Regions from separate parts of the Homo sapiens genome. Here all the other regions are linked to region 3. Evidence: fine-mapped expression QTL. A gene starts in region 3. Each other region holds a variant in brackets. All regions are shown on one strand. Distances are from middle to middle.

What was found.
Region 1: its variant is fine-mapped to the expression of WDR41 in whole blood (TOPMed, PIP 0.95). The same link has a PIP of 0.9 or more in sun-exposed skin.
Region 2: its variant is fine-mapped to the expression of WDR41 in whole blood (INTERVAL, PIP 0.93).

What each region holds. Positions count from the first base shown.
Region 1 is chr5:77,427,612-77,436,251 of GRCh38, forward strand. It overlaps PDE8B (phosphodiesterase 8B), which reads left to right. Exons shown (of 22, transcript NM_003719.5): 22 at 1-645. WDR41 (WD repeat domain 41) reads right to left here. Exons shown (of 13, transcript NM_018268.4): 13 at 3,322-5,676. The coding sequence ends at 5,524. Among named protein-coding and RNA genes, the nearest start is that of WDR41, 60 kb to the right of the region's middle. The variant C/T (reference allele first, on the strand shown) is at 4,649.
Region 2 is chr5:77,551,147-77,559,146 of GRCh38, forward strand. It overlaps a transcript of WDR41 not described here. Among named protein-coding and RNA genes, the nearest start is that of WDR41, 63 kb to the left of the region's middle. The variant C/T (reference allele first, on the strand shown) is at 3,889.
Region 3 is chr5:77,488,272-77,496,271 of GRCh38, forward strand. WDR41 (WD repeat domain 41) reads right to left here and starts at 4,045. Exons shown (of 13, transcript NM_018268.4): 1 at 3,899-4,045; 2 at 1,186-1,301. The coding sequence starts at 3,949. RefSeq lists an enhancer at 3,507-4,430 and silencers at 3,551-3,770, 4,211-4,350.

The sequences.
Region 1 (8,640 bases), 60 kb before region 3:
TGTAAATATATCAGAAAATAGGCATATGGGGAGGCAGTAAATACTATTTTAAGCTATTAATTGTATGCTAAAAGCTTCTAAAGCACAAGTGCATATTTTTATACTGCTCTTTTCACAACTCCCTGTGATCTACATAAAGTCAGACTCGAGATTTTCCTTTCTCTTTTACCAGCTGATCCTTCCTATGTATTATAAATATTAGACTCCGTAAACAAACTTCATTTTTCTTTCTCTGTACTTCATGCTGCATTTTTAAAAGGTATAAACAAACAGAGACTGAATTAATTGAATCAGTAATTACTTTTTTCCAATACAAATTGGAATGCAGAATACTTGGAACTTGTACATGGGGAAAAAATGACTTATCACTACATAATGTGCCAATGTTTTTTTCTATGTTTTGTACCAAAAATGGAAAAATATGACAATTCCATGCAAAGAAATGTATCTAAATTATTTTTGTTAGATGATAAGAGAACTTGCTTGGTCAGGACAGCAGCCAGCTTTGTATTGTAATGCTATATTATGTAAATGTGATGAAAATGTTTTTGTGAAGTACTTGTAACTAAATTCCTACAGCCATTTTTCACTCCCAACAGCTGTTTTTATTTTACCTCTTTGGCCTAAAGTTTTCATAATTTCAAATTTGGGGTTTAGTGTCCTTTATTTCATGAGTCACACACTTTGTTTTCAGAGCACATTAAAATCAGGATGCCAGAATCCCATATTAAGGACCTAGCTAACTTGCCTAGGCTTCAGAAGCTTGCTTGAGGCAAGGACAATCTTTTTCTGATCATCTCACTTTCAGTTCTATTTGGTAAGTAACATTTATCAGGTGTCAGACATCTTCTATATGAAATATTTACAGCTTACTCAGTTTTATGTCAAATTTCTTGTTAACTTCAAACTTTTTATTAGTAATGTGCAAATGTTTAAAAATGCTTTAAGACAGCTAGGTACTAAAGCGTCAACAATTTCTGCTCTTTACCAGTGTAATCTACGGTATAATCTTCTGGCCTGCGAACTAGTCTATTCTTCCACATAGTCAACTTGTTAGAAATACAGGCTTTCAGATGATATGTGTATCAGATAGTTTATATTATATAAACTATTATAACTGCCTCTTACACAGAGTTGTTTACTTAAATGTCATGTGCTGAGGAGGGCCGTATTAGGAAAATGCAACACTCTCTAATAATTTCCGTGACTAGTAAGAGAAGGAAGCCAGTTATAAAACACTGCTGGACCAGAATGACCCTATAATTTCCTAAGATCATTCTTTATTTCTAATTTAAGATTTTTAAATTTACTTGCCCTCCATGTCAGGACTGGTTAGCATTCTGGGCAAAAAAAAAACAAGCCTGTCAGTTCACTCAGAACCTACTCAGCTTTAGAGAGAGAAACAGAAGGGATGATCTTGTGCCCTTGCGCTATGTGAATATAGCCAGAGACTGAGGTAATAAATATATTTTAAAATAAAAATGACAAGGGATTTGTACACTGTAACACTATGTAGTGTTACTTCTGCTGTTGCAAGTATCTTAACTGTTGAAAGCTAAACTCAGGAAATGGAGAAAATGTACATAATATACATTGACCCATTATTTTATTCTAAATTGAAAGTCCAACTTTTAGCAGCAGTCTACCTGCAACTACTGAACACCATCAGGTTTGAGTCCCTACCAGAATCTCCCATCATACTGTTATCCCCCATCTCTGTGACCTTAGGGCATGCATGAAAACAAAAGCAATCTAGTCCCTAGGGTTGGAGACTGCCCTCTAGACAGTTTTTCATGGCAGAAAATTAGAATACAAGTATACCTCATTTTATTGCATTCTGCTTCATTGTGCTTCAAAGATACTGCCTTTTCTACAAATTGAGGGCTTGTGGCCACCCTGCATAGAGCAAGTCTATCGGGGCATTTTCCCAGCATGGGCTCACTTTGTGTAAGTGTCACATTTTGGTAACTCTTAGAGTATTTCAAATGTTTTTATTCTTGTATCTGTCATGGTGGTCTGTGATCAGTGATCTTTGTTACTACTGTAATTGTTTTAGGGTACTGCAAACCATGCCCGTATAAGACAGTGAACTTAATTGATAAATCTTGTGTATATTCTAACTGTTCCACCAACTAGCGGTTTCCAGTCTCTCCCTCTTCTTAGACCTCCCTATTCCCTGAGACACAACAATATCGAAATTAAGCCAATTAATAACCTACAGTAGCCTGTAAATGTGCAAGTAAAAGAGTCACATGTCTCTCACTTTAAATCAAAAGCTACAGATAATAAAGCTTAGTGAAGAAGGCATGTTGAAAGCCCAGGCAGGTGAAAGCCATGCCTCTTACACCAGTTAGCCAAGTTATGCAAAGGAAGAGTTCTTGAAAGTGTTAACTCCAGTGAACATGCAAACAAGAAAGTGAAACAGCCTTACTGCTGAGATGGAGAAAGTCTGAGTGGTCTATATAGATTAAACAAGCCACAACATTCCCTTAAGCCAAAGCCTAATTAATTCTTCAATTCTTTCTTCGAAGACTGAGAGGTGAGGATGCTACAGAAGAAAAGCTGGAAGCAAGCAGAGGTTGGTTCATGAAACTATCCCCATTAACGTCAGAGTGCAAGGGACAACAACAGCAGGAAGTTGTCCAGATGATCTAGCTAAGATCACTGAAGGCGACTACACTAAACAACTGAGTTTGTGAAGATGAAATGGTCTTCTATTAGAAGAGATGTCATCTAGGACTTCATAGCTGGGGAGAAGAAGTTCAATGCCAGCGAGTGTAGTTGGTGCCTTTAAGTTGAAGTCAGAGTTTATTTACCAGTCCAAAAATCTTAAGGCCCTTAAGAATTATGTTAAATCTACTCTGCCTATGCTCTAGAAGTGGAATAACAAAGCCTAGATGACAGCATATCTGTTTATAGCATGGTTTATTGAATATTTAAGCCTATGGTTGAGACCTGCTCAAATTTCTTTCCAAATATTACTGCCCATTACAATGTTACCTGGTCACCTAAGAGTTCTGATGGAGATGTACAAGGAGGTTCATGTTGTCTTCGTGCCAGCTACCACAACATCTATGCTGCAGTCCATGGGTCAAGGAGTCACTTTGACTTTTAAGTCTTATTTATTTAAGAAATACATTTAATAAGGCTGTAGCTGCCCTAACTAGTGATTCCTCTGAAGAGTCTGGGCAAAGTCAATTGAAAACCTTCTGGGAAGCATTTAGCATTCTAGATGCCACTAAGAACATTCTGATTCATGGGAGGCGGTCAAAATTCCAGCATTAAAAGGAGTCTGGAAGAAGTGGAGCCTGAAGATGTGAATGAATTGCTGTAATCTCATGATCAAACTTTAATAGATGAGAAGTTGCTTAAGAATGTGTATAGAAAGTGGTTTCTGGAGACAGTCATTTCCACAGTGAAGATGCTGTAAACATAGTTGAAATGACAACAAAGGATTTAGAATATTCTATAAACTTAGTTCATAAAGGAGCATCAGGATTTGAGATGACAGACTCTAAATTTTGAAAGAAGTTCTACTGTGGGTAAAATGCTATTAAATAGTATTACATGTTACAGAGATCTCATTTGTGAAAGGAAGTCAATTGATTTGGAAAACTTCATCGCTATCTTATTTTAAGGAACTGCCACAGCCACCCCAACCTTCAGTAACCACCTTAGTCAACAGCCAGCAGTATCAAGACCCTCCACCAGCAAAAAGATTATGACTCGCTGAAGGCTCAGATGATTGTTAGCATTTTTTAGCAATAAAGTATTCTTAAGGTATGTACATTTTTTAGAAATTTAAGACTGTAGTATAAACACAAGTTTTATAGGCACTGGGAAACCAAAAACTAGATGTGACTCACTCTATTTGCAATAGTTGCTTTTTTGATGTGGTCTGAAACCTAACCTGTAGTATCTCTGAGGTACGCCTGTATAATGACCAGAAGGAATTTGCTGTGGTACTTACGGTACCATTTGCTTCCAAAATTCATGTGATTTCTACCACTCCATTTGAATAGATTACTATCACAAAATACTAGCCTAGAACAGGCTAGGAAGTAAAACAGTTAAGTCTATGGCTCCCTTGTGTCATACAACTTCAGAAAACAACTTTACAAATGTATGGGCCAATGCAGAATTTCTAAAGGAAAAAGCACGTGAATAATGGGAGAAAGTCTTCTGTAATTGAGGTAGCTTAAGTTTTAATATTTCTCCATAGAACTTTTCATGACTCAATGTTGTTTGGATTTAAAGTAGTCATATAAGCCTTTTCTCATTCAGTCTTCAGTTCCTGTTTTTAGAGCTGCTTGGTGATACTGGGCACTACAGATTTAATTGCAAGGCCTTACTGCACTGGGCCTCAGTTTCCTCATTTGTAACATTATGCCACTGGTCTACTCAGATGACCTTAACTCTTCCAGTCTTTGTAGGTAGTTGTGGAAGCAACTGTCAAAGCTAAAACTAGTAAAAGAACTTATGGAGATTCCCTTTAGGGTATATTTGTAGTATATTTGTATAATGAACAAATAAATCTGTAGGTTTTCTGTAAGAAGGGTCAGTCTGCTAACATCTGTCACGTTGCCCTTTCTTCATCAGTAGTTTAAGAATTTCAATCTTTAATGTGTAGACTACTTTCTAATATTTT[C/T]ATTTTTTAGCACCAAAAGGAGAAAACATATTGTTACAAGGCTGGTTATAGTGTCTCAATGGACACTGCAAAGAACTACATAAAAGAAGTCTGTCTCAAGCAGTTCGTATTTGAGTCAGTGGTCAGATGGGGCAGTTGCGCTCAGCTGCAGTCCCTGACTCCGGAAACACTGTGCCTCTCAAATGATCTAGAGCTCATCCTTGGCGTACATGAGGGGCAGTTGTTGTTCTAGTACCCATTTAGCCCATGGCTCTTCAAGCCAATTCACACTGGGAAAAACACACCCTCACAAGATGCCTATCCATTTGAGTTCATACAGGTTTTAGTAGCTAGAACTAAAAAACATTTTTAAAATTATCTAAACAAATTGGTACCAAAGAAAACTTGCCATACTTAAACAGTATATATGTTCCCTTTTTTGGCTGAGAGATTCAAGTTTGTGCTATATAGAACACTAACAGTTACTAAAGACTAGGAAAATTTGCAGGAGAAAGGCTATTTTTAAACTTCACAATAATTCTAAAGGAAGCCAAATAATAAAACTTCTAATAAATGCCATAACTTAACTATTACCTCTATTTGTACCTTTCACAAGGATCTAGGTTCAAAATAAGCTCAAAACACAGCACTCACCACTTCAACAGCAGCTCAAAGTCAAATGGAAAAACTTGTGGTATATTCTTTGGAGGATATACTAGGACCTGAGAAGCAACATGTTCCTGGTTGGTAGGTCCACAAAAAATTTAAACATGTAGAATTTTATGGACTGACAAAAAAAATTACCAATTTAAGTGATCAATATATTAATGGTTTTCAGAGTAGTACCCGATATTTGATGTTCAAGGTTCATGCATGTGTATTTTTAATTCCTTAAACTAGACAGCAAGGTATAAGTCACCATTCTCCTCTAATTTTTGAAATAATCTTAAACTGCGCAATCCAGATTCTCGCTCTCCATTTTTCCACAAAATAATGAGATGATCAGCGGAGCACGTCACTAGTCCATGATCTTCAAAGTATAGAAACATCTGTAAAGAAAATTAAAACTGATTATAGGGACCCCGAAAAGCAGAGAAGTGTCTAATACCACATTAACACATGTGCGTGTGAGATATGTGCCTTAAAGACTCCTTTGGATCTGGGTGTAGAACTTCATTTCATTTTTCAGTATTGGTAAGTCACATACAAATAATATCTAATATTTTAATCAGAATTTTGTTAATATTGTTCAACTACAGAATAGCTATTTTTGTAAAGTACATGAATTCTCATAGTTCTTCCAGATTTTTTCATCATCTGATTTTTCAAGTATTGGTTTTACTTAACCATTACTTATACTGTATAATGGCTATGGAAAAAATGTCTGAATTCTAAATTTCCCAAGATAAACACTGGCTTCAGCTCTCTATAAAAGTAGATATACTCAATCCATAGGTGTTAAGTGTCAGCACTACGTTTATGGTCCCTACCCTCAAGAAGATTCTGAAAAGCAAATCATAATTGAAACAATAAAGGTACCAATGAGAGATTATGTAATCAGGTACTAAATAATGCAGTATAGACTATGACATGTCACAGAAATTCAGAAAAAGCTTCAAAGGGAGAAAATGCCCCAAGTAAGGGGAAGGGGCTTGCCCAGTGAAGGAATAGGCTGGAAGCTAAGAATAGGAAAACAGAGTGTTGACAAAAGGCAGCATGAATACTATGGGGTGAAGAGTTGTATCAGAAAAGTGAATCAATGAAAAGGATGAGGTCCTCGAAGGAAAGGGTGAAATAAAAGAGAAACAGGGCCGGGCGTGGTGGCTCACACCTGTAATCTCAGCACTTCGGGAGGCTGAGGTGGGTGGACTGCCTGAGGTCAGGAGTTTAAGGCCAGCCTGGCCAAACATGGTGAAACCCTGTCTATACTAAAAATTAGCTGGGTATCTGTAATCCCAGCTACTCGGGAGGCCGAGGAAAGAGAATCGCTTGAACCCAGGAGGTAGAGGTTGCAGTGAGTGGAGATTGCGCCATTGTACTCCAACCTGGGCAACAAGAGCAAAACTCCCTCTCGGGAAAAAAAACAAGAGTTTTCTCTGAAATGACATATACATTTCTGAAGACCACAGGATAAGACTCAGCTGAGGATGCAGGAGTGAAGGGAGGAAACATGGGAGCAGAATTCCTTCGGAAACTGGAAAACACAAAATTCAGTACACAGGTAGAGGGGTTGCGCCAGTAGAGCAAGGATGAAAATAGAAATGAGGACCAGCCTGGCCAACATGGTGACACCCCATCTCTACTAAAAGTACAAAAATTAGCTGGGCGTGGTGGCGGGCACCTGTAATCCCAGCTACTTGGGAGACTGAGGCAGGAGAATTGCTTAAACCTGGGAGGCGGAGAGTACAGTGACCCAAGACTGCACTCCAGCCTGGGCAACAGAGTGAGATGCTGTCTCAAAGAAAAAAAAAGAAATGAGGAAATTCAGGTGACACTGCAAAGATAGCCTAGATTTTATCAACGAAGCTGGAGATGCTTTTTAAAAGTGTTCAGGTCTCAACACTTTCACTCAGGAAAATTCCTAAGAAGCTGACACTGTTTTATAGAATGAGAAATGTGCCACATTCAAACACATTTTGAATGTCTTTTACATGGGGTTTTCCCTACCATCTAAAAACCTTTTTAATGAGTTCCTACTATTTAAAAAATAAAGTCCAAACTCCTCAGCCTTACATTCAAGGACATCCATAATCTGACCCCAAACCACGTTCCCAGGCTTTATCCCCTACTAGTGTCTGTTCACAGGAACCCAGCGCTCCGGCCTAGCCAAGGTGCTCCTTGCCACCACGTAAATGCTATCTTTGCCCTTCTGCCTACCACAGTCCATGCTCACCTCCCAACCATAAACACAAAGTTAAAAACTGAGCTACTTGTTAGAGGAAAGCAAAGATAACTATGACACTGTACCCCAACATCAAGGAGCTTATGATGACAAGGCTATATACTCATCCTACTAAACTTCAAGGTTCAGCTCAAGTGTCAAGTCCTATATCCTCTAACCATTTACAAGATTCAGCAAGAAATGTTTCTTCTGAGTCACTGCTGCTTACTTGGGTCCATCAAATGCAGCCTAGGGTAACAGCCTATTAGGTCTATACCCCTTCTCTCCACTCAAGGGTAAGATCCATGAGGGCAAGGACTGTTTTCATCTCTCTCTGTAAACTCCAGCAGCCAGTGTTTAGCACAGTGCCTGAAATACAGGAAATGCTCACTAACAAGGATGCTGCCGCTGCTCCTCCTAAGCATGAATGCCCTTTCAAATGAAAAGAAATTTTTTGTTCTTTGGCTATGAAACAGGGAAGAACAATTTAAGAAATTCCTTAGGGCCCTGATTACACTGTTATTAGTTCTCACAGCTAATCTGTTACCTCAACTGATCTTATTCCTTCACTACAGGCAATGATGCCTGCAGCAAATATTAATGTATCTGGATTTCTACATGTTAAAAGCTTACGCATTTCATAATTTTCAACTAAAACTTTCATATTTGCACAATGAAAATCAAGGCATAGGTTTCATTAAAGCTAACAAACTATTATCCTTCAAAGGCAGGAGAAACAGGACTCTGTTCATGAATTTGATAAAGGCCCCTGGAATTCGATTCTGTTAAGGCTTTAACTGTATACACATATAACCACAACCCTTCATGCATCCTCTGTTTACTGTTGTCATATAGTCAACATTATTCACACTGCCCTTACTGTCAGCTATCTCCAGCTCCTAAATAATGGTGATTAAGACCATTCTTAAAAGCAATGCATTCCTTGTTTCCTCAAATCATATATCCGGAAAGGGAGACCCTAACTGCACATACTATAGCCTATCCCATTCCATGTTCAGATCTGACAAACACCTACAGATATAAGAAAAAGTATATGCCTTTATGAGATCAACTGAAAGAAAAGAGCAATGAAATGCAAAAGCAGGAGTTGCTTGGACATTCTGTGGCTAAA
Region 2 (8,000 bases), 63 kb after region 3:
CTCAGCATCATGCTATGTACTCACGTAACAATCCTGCACAGTACCCTGTGAATTGAAAATAAAATCTGAAATTATAAAATAAAATTTCAGAAAGAAAGAATAAAATAAAATAAAATGTCCTAAGGATTTTGTATGTTTAAGAAGGGGGCAAAAATATTAATTCATGTTAGATTTTGATAAATGATATTCAAAAGCTAATTTTAGAATGACTAACAAAGTAAAAATAATATAGCATAAAATTTCCTTACTAGCTGGGTGTGGTGGCTCATGCCTGTAATCCCAGCACTTTGGGAGGCTGAGGCAGGAAGATCACCTGAGGTCAGGAGTTTGAGGCCAGCCCGGCCAACATAGCGAAACCCTGTCGCTACTAAAAACACAAGAATTAGCCTGGTGTGGTGGTGCTCACCTGTAATCCCAGCTACTTGGGAGGCTGAGGAATGAGAATTGCTTGAACCCAGGAGGTAGAGGCTGAAGTGAGCTGAGATTGCACCACTGCACTCCAGCCTGGGTGACAGAGTGAGACTCTGACTCAAAAAATAAAAAAATAAAGCCTGGGCGAGGTGGCTGTTGACTGTAGTACCAGCACTTTGGGAGGCCGAGGTGGGTGGATCACCTGAGGTCAGGAGTTTGAGACCAGCCTGGCCAACATGGTGAAACCCCTTCTCTACTAAAAATACAAAAACTAACTGGGTGTGGTGGCACGAGCCTGTAATCCCAGCTACTTGGGAGGCTAGAGGCATGAGAATCGCTTGAACTAGGGAGGCGGAGGTTGCAGCGAGCCGAGATCGTGCCACTGCACTCCAGCCTGGGCAACAGAGCAAGACTCTGTCTCAAAAAATAAAATAAAATAAAATAAAATAAAATAAAATAAAATAAAATAAAATAAAATAAAATAAAATAAAATAAAATAAAATAAAATCTCCTAACTAGTAGGGGAAAAATTGAATGAGAAAAAAAATGCAATTGATGCAGGGGAGGACAAGAAAGACCATAGAAAAGGTAGGGCAAATACAAACCACTAAATAAAATTGTCAAAATAAATCTAAATATATTAGTAATTTAAATAAATATAAAGACACATAAAAATCAATTATAGTAACAGTGAACATGCGGAAGCTGACATTAAAAACACAGGGCAATTTACAATAACTCCAAGGAAAATGAAATACTTATGCATTTACTTAACATGTGCAAGATCTATATGCTACAAATTACAAAATGCTGATTTTGTGAAAGTCAAAGAAGACTTAAATAAATGAAGAGATATATCATGTTTATGAACTGGAAGACTCAGTTTAGTAATGCTGTCAATTCTCCCCAAATTGGTCTATAGTTTAGTGTAACTCCTATCAAAATCCCAGCAATATTTTTTTCATAGACCGAGGCAAGCTTATGCTAAAATATATATGAAAAGGCACAGGCCCTGAATAGCTAGAGCAATCTTGATAGAGAAGAAAGACAAAGAAATGGGAGAAACTACTCTACCCATATTAAGCCTGGCTATATAATTACTGTAATCAAGAGAGTGTGGTGTGGGCAGAGGGGTAGACACATGAATCAACGGAGCAGCACAGGATACCCAGAAATAGATTCACACAGTCTGCCACACTGACTTGACAAAGGTGCAAAACCAATTTAAAGGAGGAGGAATAACCTTTTCAACAAATGATGCTGGAACAATTGCATATCCATATGGGGAAAAAAACCCTAGATCTAAATTTCATGCTTTATATAAAAAATGAGCTTAAATTGGATCACAGGCTTAAATGTAAAACAAACCTATAAGACTTTCAGCAAAACACATGGAAGAAAGTTGTCAGGATCTGGCGCTAAGCCAGTAGTTGCCAGACTTGACACCAACTGCATGATCCATAAAAAGAAAAACTGATGAATTGGACCTCCCTGAAATTAGAAATGTTTGTTCTGTGAAAGCCATATAAAGAGGATGAAAAGGAAAACTACACACTCAGGAGAAAATATTTGCAAGTCATATGCCTTAGTCCTTTTTTGCTGCTATAACAAAATACCTCAAACTGGGTAATTTATAAAGAACAGACATTTATTTTTCACAGCTCTGGAGGATGGGAAGTCCAAGATTTAATCACCAGCATTTGGTATCTGGTGAGGCCCCCATCTCCACTTTCAACCAAGATGGAGCCCTGTTGCTGCATCCTCTTGAGGGGACAAATGCTGTGTTCTCAAATAGCTGAAGGGATGTAAAGGGCAAAAAGGGCCTAAGCTAGTTCCCTCCAGCTAGGCACCAATTCATTCATGAGAGCAGAATCCCCCTGATTTAATCACTTCCCCAAAAGACCCCACCTCTCAATACCATCATAATGGGGATTAAGTTTCAACACATGAATTTTGGAGGGAATGCCATCTTTCAAATCATAGCACCAAATATCTAGCAAAGAACTTACACATTTTAAATTCTAGAATATGTAAAGAACTCTCAAAACTCAACATTAAAAAAATCTATTAAATGAACAAAAGACATAAACAGACATTTACCAAAGATGATAAAAATAAGCACATGAAAAGATATTCAATATCATAAGCTGTTAGGAAACTTTAAATTAAAACTACAATGAGATACCACTACACACATATCAACATGACTAAGATTTTAAAAAATAACACCACCAAATGCTGGCAAGGATGCAGAGAAACTGGTTCACTCATACATTACTGGTGGGAATGTAAAATGGTAAGCCACTCTGGAAAAGAGTTTAACAGTTGTTTAAAATGTTAAACTTGCAACTACCATACAACCCAATAATTGCACTTCTGGACATTTATGCCAGAGGAATGAAAGTTATTTTAACATAAAAACCCAAATAATTAATGGTTATAGCAGCTTTATTTGTTATTGCTAAAAACTGGAAGTCAACAGATGGTTAAAGAAATTGTGGTATATGCACAACATGGAATTCTACTAAGCAATAAAAATAAATAGTCGGTTGATACATATGACTTGGATGTCTCTAGGGAATTCTGCTGAGTACAATGATATAGTGTTTTATAATCCCCAAAAGTTACACACTACATTATTCCATGCATATAAAATTTGGGGAGTGCCAAATTTTAGAAATGGAGGATCGATTAGTGGTTGCCAGATGGTAGAGATTGGTGAGGGGAGGTAGGGAAGTAGTTGTTCTGGTCTGAATGTTTCTGTCCCCCTGAAATTCTTACGTTAAAATCTAATCACCAGTGAGATGGTATTAGAAAGTGGGACCTTTGGGAGGTGATTAGGTCATAATGGTAGAGCCCTCGTGAATAGGATTAGTGCTCTTGTAGAAGAGATCCCAGAGAGCTAGCTCACCCTTCCCACCATGTGAGGACACAACTACAAAGTACCTTTCTAGGAGACAGGCCCTCTCCAGAAACTGAATCTGCTGATGTATTGATCTCGGACTTCCCAGCCTCCAGAACTATCAGAAATAAATTTGTTATTATTATATAATATAAATTTTTTATAATTTATAATATATAGTATAATTTATAACTTATTTAGTATAATTTCTGTTGTTTATGAGTTTATAGTATTTTGTTATAGCAACACAAATGGACTAAGACAGTGGTGTAGTTATAAAGAGCAACAGGAAGGATCCTTGTTGTGCTGGAACTGTTTAGTATCTTGAACAGTGGTAGTGGATACAAGAATCTACATAGCTGATAAAAGTGCCTAGAGGCCGGGTGGGGTGGCTCATGCCTGCAATCCCAGCACTTTGGGAGGCTGAGGTGGGTGGATCACTTGAGCCCAGGAATTCGAGACCAACCTACAAAATATACAAAAATTAACTGGGCACAGTGGCATACACCTGTAGCCCCAGCTACTCAAGAAGCTGAGGTGGGAGGATTCATTGATCCCAGAAGGTGGAGGCTGTA[C/T]CTGATTGTACCACTGCATTCCAGCTTGGGTGAGACAACAAGACCCTGTTTCAAAAAAAAAAAAAAATACAAGTATATAGAACTTAACACACACACTCGTACAATTCAAATTGGAAAAATCTAAATAAAATCAGTGAATTGTATTAATTTTCTGGTTGTAATACTATGCTATTATTTTCAAAAATGTTACCGTTGGAGGAAACTGGGCAAAGTGTACAAAGGATCTTTCTGCGTTGTATCTTAAACTGCATATTACTCTACAATTATCTTTTATTTAATTCATTTATTTATTAAGACAGGGTATCACTTTGTCACACAGGCTGAAGGGCAGTGGCATGATCACGGCTCACTGCAGCCTCAACTTCCTTGGCTCAAGTGAGCCTCCCACCTCAGTCTCCCAAGAAGCTGGGACTACAGGTGCACACCACCACACCCAGCTAATTGTTTTGGTTTTTAGCAGAGGCAAGGTCTCGCTATGTTGTCCAGGCTGGTCCTGAACTCCTGAGCTCAAGAGATCCTCCTGCCTCAGCCTCCCAAAGTGCTGGGATTACAGGTGTGAGCCACCCCGCCTAGCCTGTAATTATCTTTAAAAAAGACATTAATTACAACAGCATCCGAAAATATAAAGTGCCTAGAAATGAATCTAACAAACAATGGGTAAGATCCTTATGAAGAAATTATAAAATTTTATTGAAAGAGATAAAAAGACTAAATAAATGAAGTATAAATCTTATCCTCATGGATTGGAAGACAAATTCATAAAGATGTAAAGATTCAATACTATTTCAATCAAAATCCTAACAAGGTTTCTTTGTGGAAACTAACAAGCTGATTCTAAAATTCATATGGAAAGAAAAGAGCCAAGAATTAAACACTACTGAAGAAGAAAAACAGAAGGAAGAGACTTGCCTTACCAGATATCAGGTGTTTTATAAAGCTGGAGCAATTAACACAGTGGCATTTGCACAGAAATAGCAAAAATAACCAACAGTTGAAAACAGAGAACCCAGAACCCAGAAACAGGTTTGATTTTTGACAAAGGTGGTGGGGAAAAGATGGACTTTTTTTTTTTTTTTTTTTTTTTTTTTGAGATGGAGTCTCTCTCTGTTGCCAGGCTGAAGTGCAGTGGTGCGATCTCGGCCCGCTGCAACCTCCGACTCCCGGGTTCAAGCAATTCTCCTGCCTCAGCCTGCCGAAATAGCTGGGATTATAGGCCCATGCCACCACGCCCAGCTAATTTTTGTATTTTTAGTAGACATGGGGTTTCACCATGTTGGCTAGGCTGGTCTAGAACTCCTGACCTCAAGTAATCCACCCACCTTGGCCTCCCAAAGCGCTGGGATTACAGGCGTGAGCCGTTGCACCCGACTGACTGACTGTTTGTTTGTTTTGAGGTGGAGTCTCGCTCTACTGCGCAGGCCAGAGTGCAGTGGCATGATGTCGGCTCATTGCAACCTCTGCCTCCTGGGTTCAAGCAATTCTCCTACGTGTAGCCCCCAAGTAGCTGGGATTACAGGCACGCGCCACCACACCCAGCTAATTTCTGTATTGTTTGTGGAGTTTTAAATTTAATATCACTAAGACAGCTGGTTATTCATGTGGGGAAAAAAGTGAAATTGGGTCTTATTTTTGTGGTTGCCCCATGAAAGGTGAGCTCAATGCCCCCATCCAAAACTGGTTCAGATATCAAGATTGTTGATACCACATTTACAACAAGAAGGTATTTTAAAAGTTTATTACACACAATGAGGCTTTCTGGTCAGAACAGGACAGGCATCCAAGCCAGTTCTAAATGGCTTGAGGGAGGGAGAGAAAAGGGTCTTTGATTTTTAATGTGGTCAGTGATAGGGCCAGTATGAGGGATGATTTGAACTTCTCCTTGGCACCAAGGGAGGGGGCACCTGGGGTTTCTAATCAGCTTTGCCAGATGCTGGGCAAGAGGGAAAGGGGGAGGGGTGGAGCCTGAAAGCTGTTGGTAGTCAAACATCAAAAATGGAATTAGATTATTTATTACAGATCCCTTTTACACACATAAACAAAAAATTCCTTGTGGATTAGGAGTTATATTAAAAGCAAAAGTATGAAACTTTTAAAAGACAAAATTGAAGAATATCTTTATGATCTCAAGGTAGTGAAAGATTTACTAGACATAGCACAGAAAGTACTAACCATAAAGAAAAAGTGATAAATTTAACTCTAGTATATTAAAGTTAAAAACTTCTGTTTAAAAGCAAAACAAAACAAAAAACCATTAAGAGAATAAATAAGTAAACCACACTCTGGGAGAAGTGATTTGTTACACCCTAAAAATGAGCCCCCAAAATTGTACCCAGAATATACAAAGACCTACTATAAGTCACCAGAGAAACACACACAATCCAATAGAGAATGGACAGAAGACTTGAGCAAGCATTTCACAAAGAGGTGGCAGAAGTAACCAAAAGTATAAAAAGATAAAAGATGCTCACAGTAAGATGACATTTCACATCTGTAAAGCTTGCAAAAATTAAAAATTCTGACAATATTAAATGTTAGCGTGAGCCACTAGAACACTTGTACACTTCTCATGGCAGTAGGAATCAGTATAGTCGCTTTGAAAAAGCAGTCTGGCATTAATTGCTTAGTGGATTTGAAGGCATGCAATTCCACTCCTAGGCACGTACCTACAGAAACTCTTGCACATATACACCAAAATACATGTGTAGTAATACTCAGAGTATAGTGACACTATTCATAATAGAGAACAATGAAAACAGCCCAAATGTTTACCAACAGTAGAATGAATAAACTGTGGCATATTCATACAATGGACTATTAGGTGAGAGTTAAAAGTAATGACTTATAGTAGAAGCAATGAAGTTACAAAAGAATGTATACGGTATGATTATCTTTATATAAAGGCCAAAAACATGCAAAATTAAACAACATATTGTTTAGAAGAAAAAATGTGGCAATGCAGTGAGTAAGAACAAGCAAATAAAAACCCCACGTCAGTGTAATGATTACCTTTAAGTAGGGAGGGAAGAAATGAACACATAGGGAACTTCAAATGTTCTTTTTAAAAAAAAAAAAAAAAAAAAAACAAAACAGGAGTAGGTATGTAGGTAATCGTTAAAATGCGATTCTTCAAATGTTAATATATTTTAAATTAATATTTAACTTTAAAAAACAATTTGTATAAAGAAAAATCATTGCTCTTGAATTCTCTTTCTGTTTAGGAAAGGAAAATTTACCATTGTGACATTTTTAGTGTCTTATGAGCTTTTCCTTGTGCATGAGTAAAAATCTAAGAAAAATAGAAAAGGAAATTGAAAAAGAATATTCTTACATATGTGCCAGGCAACAGCAGACAGCCCACCTTTCCCAGGGAGTCTGGCTACACAAAGGCCTATGGAGGCAGAGCAGATTGCCGCATTCACCAAAAGAGCCTCGCTGACCTGCACCGAATTCCCCAGAGGACTGGGCCCTACTTATTTTTACATCATTAGCCCTCTTGGGGCAGGCTGAGGTCATTTCCAATTTGAAAACGACCTTGGATCACAAGCTGAAGTTTTCCATTTGTTTACGCTATTAAACATCCTGAGATATGATTAATAAGTCTTCTGCATAGAGAAATAAGTTTATTTCTAACAAACATGGTCCTTGACATGTTTCTACTATTTATGTTATTGCAGTGAGTTCATTCCACAAACTAATTTTCCAGCACTTTCTAATCTTAGCATTGTTTGGCAGTCTCTTAAACTCAGCAATAAGTTGTCTGATAAACCAATATGCAAGACATGAATTGTTTAGAAAATTATGAATATGTGATTACTTTCATCCTTTCAAAATAATAAAGTCATTGAAAAAATATTTTTTTTCTGTATTTTCCAAATTATCTATTACACTAAGGGAAAAAAACCTTAATTTTTAAAGCTTAACAAGAAATTGTGGGCTAAGATTCCTTAGGGAATCAAATATACATTTCACTTCTTGTAAAAGGGTCTATGAAAGCTGTTATTACTCTTTTAGGAGAGCTCAAGAATAAATAACAGACACATGTATTGAGTTGCTCTGTGTGTATTAAAGACAGTGGTACGCTGGTAAATAGTTAACAACCAGCTATATAGAGA
Region 3 (8,000 bases):
CATGGTAAAGCAACTAAATATCAGTAACATTTAAAGAGCAGAGAGAAGGCTGAGCACGGTGGCTGATGCCTGTAATCCCAACACTTTGGGAGGCCAAGGTGGGAAGACAGCTTGAGCCCAGGAGTTGCCCACCAGCCTGGGCAACATAGTGAGACCCTGTCTCTATTTTAAAAATTAAATTAAATTAAAAAAAAAAAAGCAGAGAAAAGACAAGGTTAATAGACAGCAGAAGTGGTGGTCAGAGTTAGGAATAATTACAGTAACACTCATCCATGGAGTGAAAAAAAACAGCAAAGGCAAAAGACAAAATTAGAGATGAAAGTGGAAAAACTAGTAGAGACAACAGAAATGAGGTTGGGGGATTAGGACGGCATTCAATGTGGATGCTTAGTAGTCTGGAGAGTCATTCATTCACTCAGCCACCATCTATGAATTATCTGCTACATGTAAGGCACTGTACTAGGTACTAAGAAAACATGGTGAATAAGAAAAACATAGCCTCATTCTCATGAAGCTTACATTTTAGAGAGGACGAAAATATTGAATTACACCACTAATTATGTAATTATTATGGTGAAACATGCTATAAAAGATATACAGTTGAATATGGGCTTAATATACATATATACATATCAGTAATAGTCTACAGTCCTAAAGCCTATACACCTTCACCTCTATTTGCAAATATATTAAACATAATTATTATACATGTTAGCAAGGAAGTACAGAATAATGTACATTTTCAAGTGGTTTCATCAATAACAAAAACTTTGGATTAAACTTACCTTCCACTAAAAATAAAACATTCCTGGTAGGTACCTGATACTTAAACACTTAGCATATTTGTTTCTCAAATACAAGTTCTCCTTAATATACTGTTATAACTCCTACCCAAATTTTAAAGTCATACACTTCTTTTAAACTATTAAGAATATTTCTGAGAATGCAAACAAACAAACATAACCCTCAAATCACCAGACACGACACCCTGACTTTGGGCAAAAAAGACTCTAGATACATATTTCATCGAGATGCAGAGGCCAATTTCAATTTCTACTAAATGTTACTAATGATCACAGTTTTTAAATTTTTAGAAAAGATGTATTAATTTTAAAGGTGTTTAACATAAAATTCCCTAAAACCTCTTCCCAAACAATAGTCAATTAGACCACTATAGCTTCTTACCTGTAGTCATCTAACTGTACCAGAAATCGTACAATATCATGATGAGCCTTCAGTACTAGCAGTTCAGTGTAGGGATTCTGGGTTTGTTCTTCACCTATTGTCTGTAAAGGAGATTTCTTGTATTGAAAAAAAAAAAAAAGCAAAAAACAAAAGACAAAAAAAGAGATAAAATGATTTGTAAGACCATATTGGAATATAACTCCATGGTATACATCTGAGAACACAAGATTTTAAAAGCCTTAAGGTATCATGTTCTACTACTAAATATTATTTCTTCTTTTATCAACTAAATAACTGCCAGTTCCACATAAAACACTTCTCCTACCACAAATTCGAATCATGAATTTTAGTATTTTCAAATCACAATAAATTTACAAAAAGGGTGAATTTTATTTTATGTAAATTGTATCCTATTAAACCTCACTTTAAAAAAAGTAATGGGCCAATCCAACTCAACATTTTAGAATGCATGTTTCTCAGTTAAAATGTGGCAGAAACAAAACTGCAAATCAAAGACATAAAATAGTGAAACAGTGCCTCATCCATTACAAGCACTCAATACATGCTTGCTAAATGAATAAATGAAGGCATGAAATCAACTCTGGATTTCTCAAACTTGATGCTGACATTTTGGGCTAGAGAATTTTTTTTTTTCGCACCACACGCCCAACTAATTTTTGTATTTTTAGTAGAGACAGGTTTTCACCACGTTGGCGAGACTGGTCTTGAATTCCTGACCTCAAGTGATTCGCCCGCCTCGGCCTCCCAAAGTGCTGGGATTACAGGAGTAAGCCACCGCGCCCAGCCCAGATAATTCTTTGTTGTTGAGAACTGTCCTGTGCATTACAGGACATTGAGCAGCATCCCTGGTCTATACACATTAGATGCCAATAGAACTGCCCCTCTGCAAGGCATGACAATCAAAAATGTCTCCAGACATTGCCAAATGTCTCCTGCGGGGCAAAAATCACCCCAGTTGAGAACCACTGCTTAAACGAGAAGCCTGGATACAAAGTTATTGCATAAATTAGGGACAATCATAGGTTCCGATAATGTACAAATTCACAGCAGTTATACAACTCAATTAGATTTATATGAAGAAATATATAAATTTAAAACATGCATAAATGTTTTCCAAAAAAAAAACCACCACCACAAAGCATTGATTTTGTATTTATTCTGTCTTCCTTCTAGAAGAGATTGTGGTGAGAAATTTGAAAACTATATAAACTGCTTCTCCTCCAATGAAAACTTGCCAGGAATGGGAGACCTGGTTAAGCAAATAACATGATTAACCAAAGAACCAGGTTAAAACAGAATTATCCAAAATGTCGTATATACCATATATGGCTATTCAATAATCCACAATCTCAAGGATTTAGGATTAATCTGAAATAAGAAATTTTTAAAAACAGACAATACCGTCAACTGCAAAGACATGCGGAAGTTAAAATTGAGAAGACTGCCTACTCTCAACAATCCAATTTCTTACTTTTAACAATCTAAACAAATACTTCTTATGAGAAATAAAATGCAATTCACAAATTCTGTTCTTGTCAGGCCTCTGAGCCCAAGCTAAGCCATCGCATCCCCGGTGACTTGCACATATACGCCCAGATGGCCTGAAATAACTGAAGAATCACAAAAGAAGTGAAAATGCCCTGCCCCGCCTTAACTGATGACATTCCACCACAAAAGTGAAAATGGCCGGTCCTCGCCTTAAGTGATGACATTACCTTGTAAAAGTCCTTTTCCTGGCTCATCCTGGCTCAAAAAGCTCCCCTGAGCACCTTGCCCCACTCCTGCCCGCCAGAGAACAACTCCCCTTTGACTGTAATTTTCCTTTACCTACCCAAATCCTATAAAACGGCCCCACCCCTATCTCCCTTCGCTGACTCTCTTTTCGGACTCAGCCCGCCTGCACCCAGGTGATTAAAAGCTTTTATTGCTCACACAAAGCCTGTTTGGTGGTCTCTTCACACGGACGCGCATGAAAGTTCTTGTGTGGCATACGAAATAAATTTGGGACCTCAAAATTTCCAAGACTGCAAAAATTATTTTATTCACATTTCAAATGTAAATTTCATTACACACGGTCTATTCAATTATTCGGGCCCATGAAGAAAGTGTGACTATGAAACCAAAAACAGCAGTTAATTAGAAAATCATGTTCTTGACCTTGAAGCAGATTACTTTTTAAAAATAATTATATCCTTTTTCGGTTGTTGGATAAGTAAATTAATTTTATATTCCCTGACCAAGTATCAGTAGACGCCAGGAAGAGACACCAATTCAAATAAACCAAAAGTGGAAAGCTGCGGTCACAACTCGTTCGTTTCTAGCTAAATCGTATACTTTTTAAGTGGAAATGAAGATAGTTTCGGTAGCCAGAAGCCCTAAGTTGTCACAGGTCCCAATAGGACTGCTGACCAGCTGAGCGTCCCTGAGCCAGGATCTCACGATTCAGCTAGCCGTGGGACGGGGCCGGGGGTCTGCAGCTCCAGGGTGCGCCTGGGGTCCCGCCGGGTCTGAGGAGCTCCGGCTCCCGCGCCCTCCGCCCCCACCGTCGTGAGAACAGCGCGTGGCACGAGCTCAGCAGCCAGCCCCGCCTCCGCCCGGGTCCCCGCGGTCGGAACCCAGGAAGGCCGAACCGGAACGAAGCCGCCCCTCCAGCAAGCTCGACGGACGCAGAGCAGACCCACCCGGGGTTTACCTCGGCCAGTCCCTGCGGTTCTCGGCCTCCCCCGATCAGCCATCGCAACATCCGGGCAGCGGCGGCGTCTTGCCCGGTCCAGCCCCAGTCAGCCCAAACTCCGCCCCAGGCTCGGCCTCCTCCTTCCTCCCCGGCTGCAGCGCAACTGAGACGCTAATACTTCCCGCCCCAGATCAGCCCACGGGCCGAAGGAATGCAGACCACAGTTGAGGGAGAATTTTTGTCCCCAAAGCGCTCCCGTACCCAGCCACGGAGGCTTAGTTTGGGCAGTCGCTTGGGGTGCGGCGGCCGACGGCGGGGGCGGCTGCGGCGATTGCGGGGCGCGCGCTGCTCCGAGTGAGCACGCGCGGGAGCGCCGCCGGGTAGCGCACGGAGCTTAGGTAGCTCGAGCGGCCCCTGGTGGACGCGCGCGGAGCAGCAACCCGACCCCGGCGAGCAAGCGCGCACGAAGAATAATGCCCCTCCCTGTGACATGGCTTTAGTATCCTCCACTTCCTAGGGTACCAGGAAATCTCCCCTGCTTTCCCAAGAGCTTGCTGAAGAAGGTGTACCGCAGTAGACTTCTGCATCCAGACAAATCCAGTGGCTCATGTGTACAGCCGAATAAATCCGGCCAACATTTACTGTGTGCTATAGTACAGCTACTGTGCTAAGGCTTTACATAAATCCTCATGGTAAACCTATATCCTCTATTTTACACATCAAGAAACTAAAGCTCTGAATGATTAGGTAATTTGTCTAAAGATAACAGCTAGGAAGTGGCTACATTGGTAGTGTTCTTGACCGTATGCTATATTAACATAGAATCTCCCTAAAGAATAGAAGGCAGTTCATATACCTTTTTTTGACTACTACATTTTCTTAGGTAGTCAAAGGGCTGTGGTTATCTATGCTGACTGCATATCAGAATTACCTGGGTAGCTTTTGAAAATGTAGATTCCTGGCTTCCACCTCAGACTCATTAAAATAATCTTTGTGGTTGGGACGTAGGAATCGGGGTTTTGGGAAGGCTCCTCAGGTGATTCTGATGAGTAGCAAGGTCTGAAAATCACTGGTCTAGGAACTACTTATACATATCATGTTTGCAAAAGTATAAATATATATATTTGCATATGTATTAGGTTCAAATAATCCTCCTAGCAGTAAATTGTTGTAGGGAATCTACAAATGTCCCAACTAATGCATTAATTCAGCAAACATGTATTGGACACAGATGCACTAGAGAAGCAGAAAGGAATCACATAAAATGCTGCTCTGGAGGGACAAGGCATAATGTCCCAGTCACCAATAAGAGAGAGCCATACATCCCACTTTAAGCTAAGTTGGTTGTGAGCAGCTACACAAACTTACAGTCCCTCTGGAACTCGGATCTCCTATAATTCATCTTTGTATTCCTTTTGAGTGCACTCGGCAAGAACACACTCCCAAGGATCAGGAGCATGTTGCCTTCTGTGTGCTAGCCCCAAATTGCAGTCTGCATACAGTTGAAGACAGACCAAAACAGAGACTATCCCCTGGGAAAGAGGGACTTATCTTTAAGTAAAACAAAACTCAGAGACATCAGGAGTTCAGTTCTGGAAGGAATATCTTCACGTGAGACAATGTGGTTGCCCAAATAGCCTACATTTTATTCTTCTGATTATCCACATTCTTTAGGGTTTGCCCCATGCTCTTTAGGGTTTGCCCAATGCCACATTACTCTGATGTAAGGGACATTCTGCTGATGCTTTAAAGCACTGGTCCAGGGTTGAACACTTCCTCCCTTGGTTCCTCTTAGGACAGCTAAGAAAGAATTTTTTACAAGATTAGTATATTATTGGGCACACAATGTATAAAGATGTAATTTGTGGCATCAATAGAAAGGGTGGGGGTGGAGCAATATAGGAGCAGAGTCTTTGTATGCTATTGAAGTTACGTTGGTATAAATTAAAATGAGATTGTTATAACGTTAGGATGTTAAATGTAATTCTCATGGTAAACACAAAAATACCTGTAAAATATACATAAATGGAAATGATCAGGGAATCAAAACATTTACTACAAAAAATAAGCTAAATACAAAAGATGGCAGTAATAGAGAAAATGAGGTACAAAAAAACTATAAGGCATATAGAAAACAAATAGAAAAATAGAAATTCCTCTTTATCAGTAATTACTTTAAATATAAATAGATTAAACTGTCCAAAGAAAAGGCAGATTGACAAAAAAAAACCAAACTCTAGAATCCAACTATATGCTGTCTATGAAAGACTGACTTTAGATCAAAGACACAAATAGATCAAAAGGGAAAGAATAGAAAAAGATATTCCATGCAAATAGTAACCAAAAGAGAACTGGAGTGGCTGTACTAACAGCTGACAAAATAGACTTTAAATCAAAAAAGTTTTCAAAGACAGAAACATTATGTTATATATTAATAAAATAGTCAATATAGCAAGAAGATAAAACAATTACAAATATTTACACACCTAATAATAGACCCTCAAAATTTATGAAGCAAAACTTAACAGAATTGAAGAAAGATATAGTTCTACAACAATGGTAGCAGACTTCATCTGTCCACTTTCAATAATAGATAGAACAACCAGACAAGGTAAAGAAATAGAGGACATAAACAACACAATAAACTAATTACATCTAACATATAAAGAACACACTACCCAACAACATCAGCATAAACATTCATCTCAAGCACATGTAAGACATTCTCTTAGATAGACCATATGTTAGGCCACAAAATAAGTCTCAATCAATTTTAAAAGATAGATATCACACAAAGTATCTTCTCTGACCACAACAGGAATCAGTGACAGAAGTAAAACTGGAAAATTCACAAATGTGTTGAAATTAAGCAAAACACTCAAACAACCAATGAGTCACAAGAAAAAGCAGCACAAAAGAAATTATAAAATACCTAGAGACAAAAACACAACACGACAAAACTTACGGGATGCGGTAAAAGCAGTACTTAAAGGGAAATTTATAGGTATAAATGTCTACATTAAAAAAGAAGATCTAAAATCAATAACCTGACTTTATACCATAGGAACTTGAAGTAGAAGAGCAAATGAAACCCAAAACTAGTAGGAGGAAGGAAATAATAAGAATTAGAGCAGAGATAAACAAAATAGAGAATAGAAAAAATAGAGCAAATCAATGAAACCAAAAGTTGGTCTTTTGCAAAGATGAAAAAAATTTAAAAACCTTTAGCTGGACTGACAAAGAAAAAAAGAGAAAATGCAAATAACTAAAATTGAAAATGAAAGTGGAGACATTACTACTGACTTTGCAGAGAGAAAAGGGACTATGCGACCACTATGAACAATCGAACACAAATTAGATAACCTAAAAGATATGAATAAATTCCTTGAAATACACAAATTATTTAAATTGACTCAGAAAGAAATGGAAAATATTAACAGACCTATAGCAAGTAAAGAGATTGAAACAGTATTCAAAAACCTCCCAAAAAAGTGAAGTCCTGGACCAGATGGCTTTACTGATGAATCTACCAAACATTTAAAGAAGAATTAACACAAATCTTTCTCAAATTCTTCCAAAAAGTGAAGAGGAGGAAACACTTTTTAACTCCTTATACAAGGCCAGCATTACCCTGATACCAAAACCAGAAAAAAAATCACAAAAAGAGAAAATTATAGGCCAATATCCCTTATGACTACAGATGAAAAAAATCTTTGACATAATATTATCACATTAAATCCAACAGCATATTAACAAGTATTATTTACTATGACCAAGTAAGATTTATTCCGGGAATGGAAGAGTGGTTCAGTATAAGAAAATCAACCAATGTAATACATCACATTAATAAAACAAAGGAAGATAACCACAAGATAATCTCAACTGATGCAGAAAGGCATTTTACAAAATCCAACACCCTTTTATCACAAAACTCTCAGAAAACCAGAAATAGAGGGGAAATTCCTCAATAGGATAAAAAGTAATTATGAAAAACCCATGGTTAACATCACATTCGATGGTGAAAGACTGAAAGCTTCTCCCCTAAGATGAGAAACAAAAGAAAGATGTCCTCTTTGACCACTGCTCTTCAACACTGTATTGGAAGTTCTTGCCAGAGCTA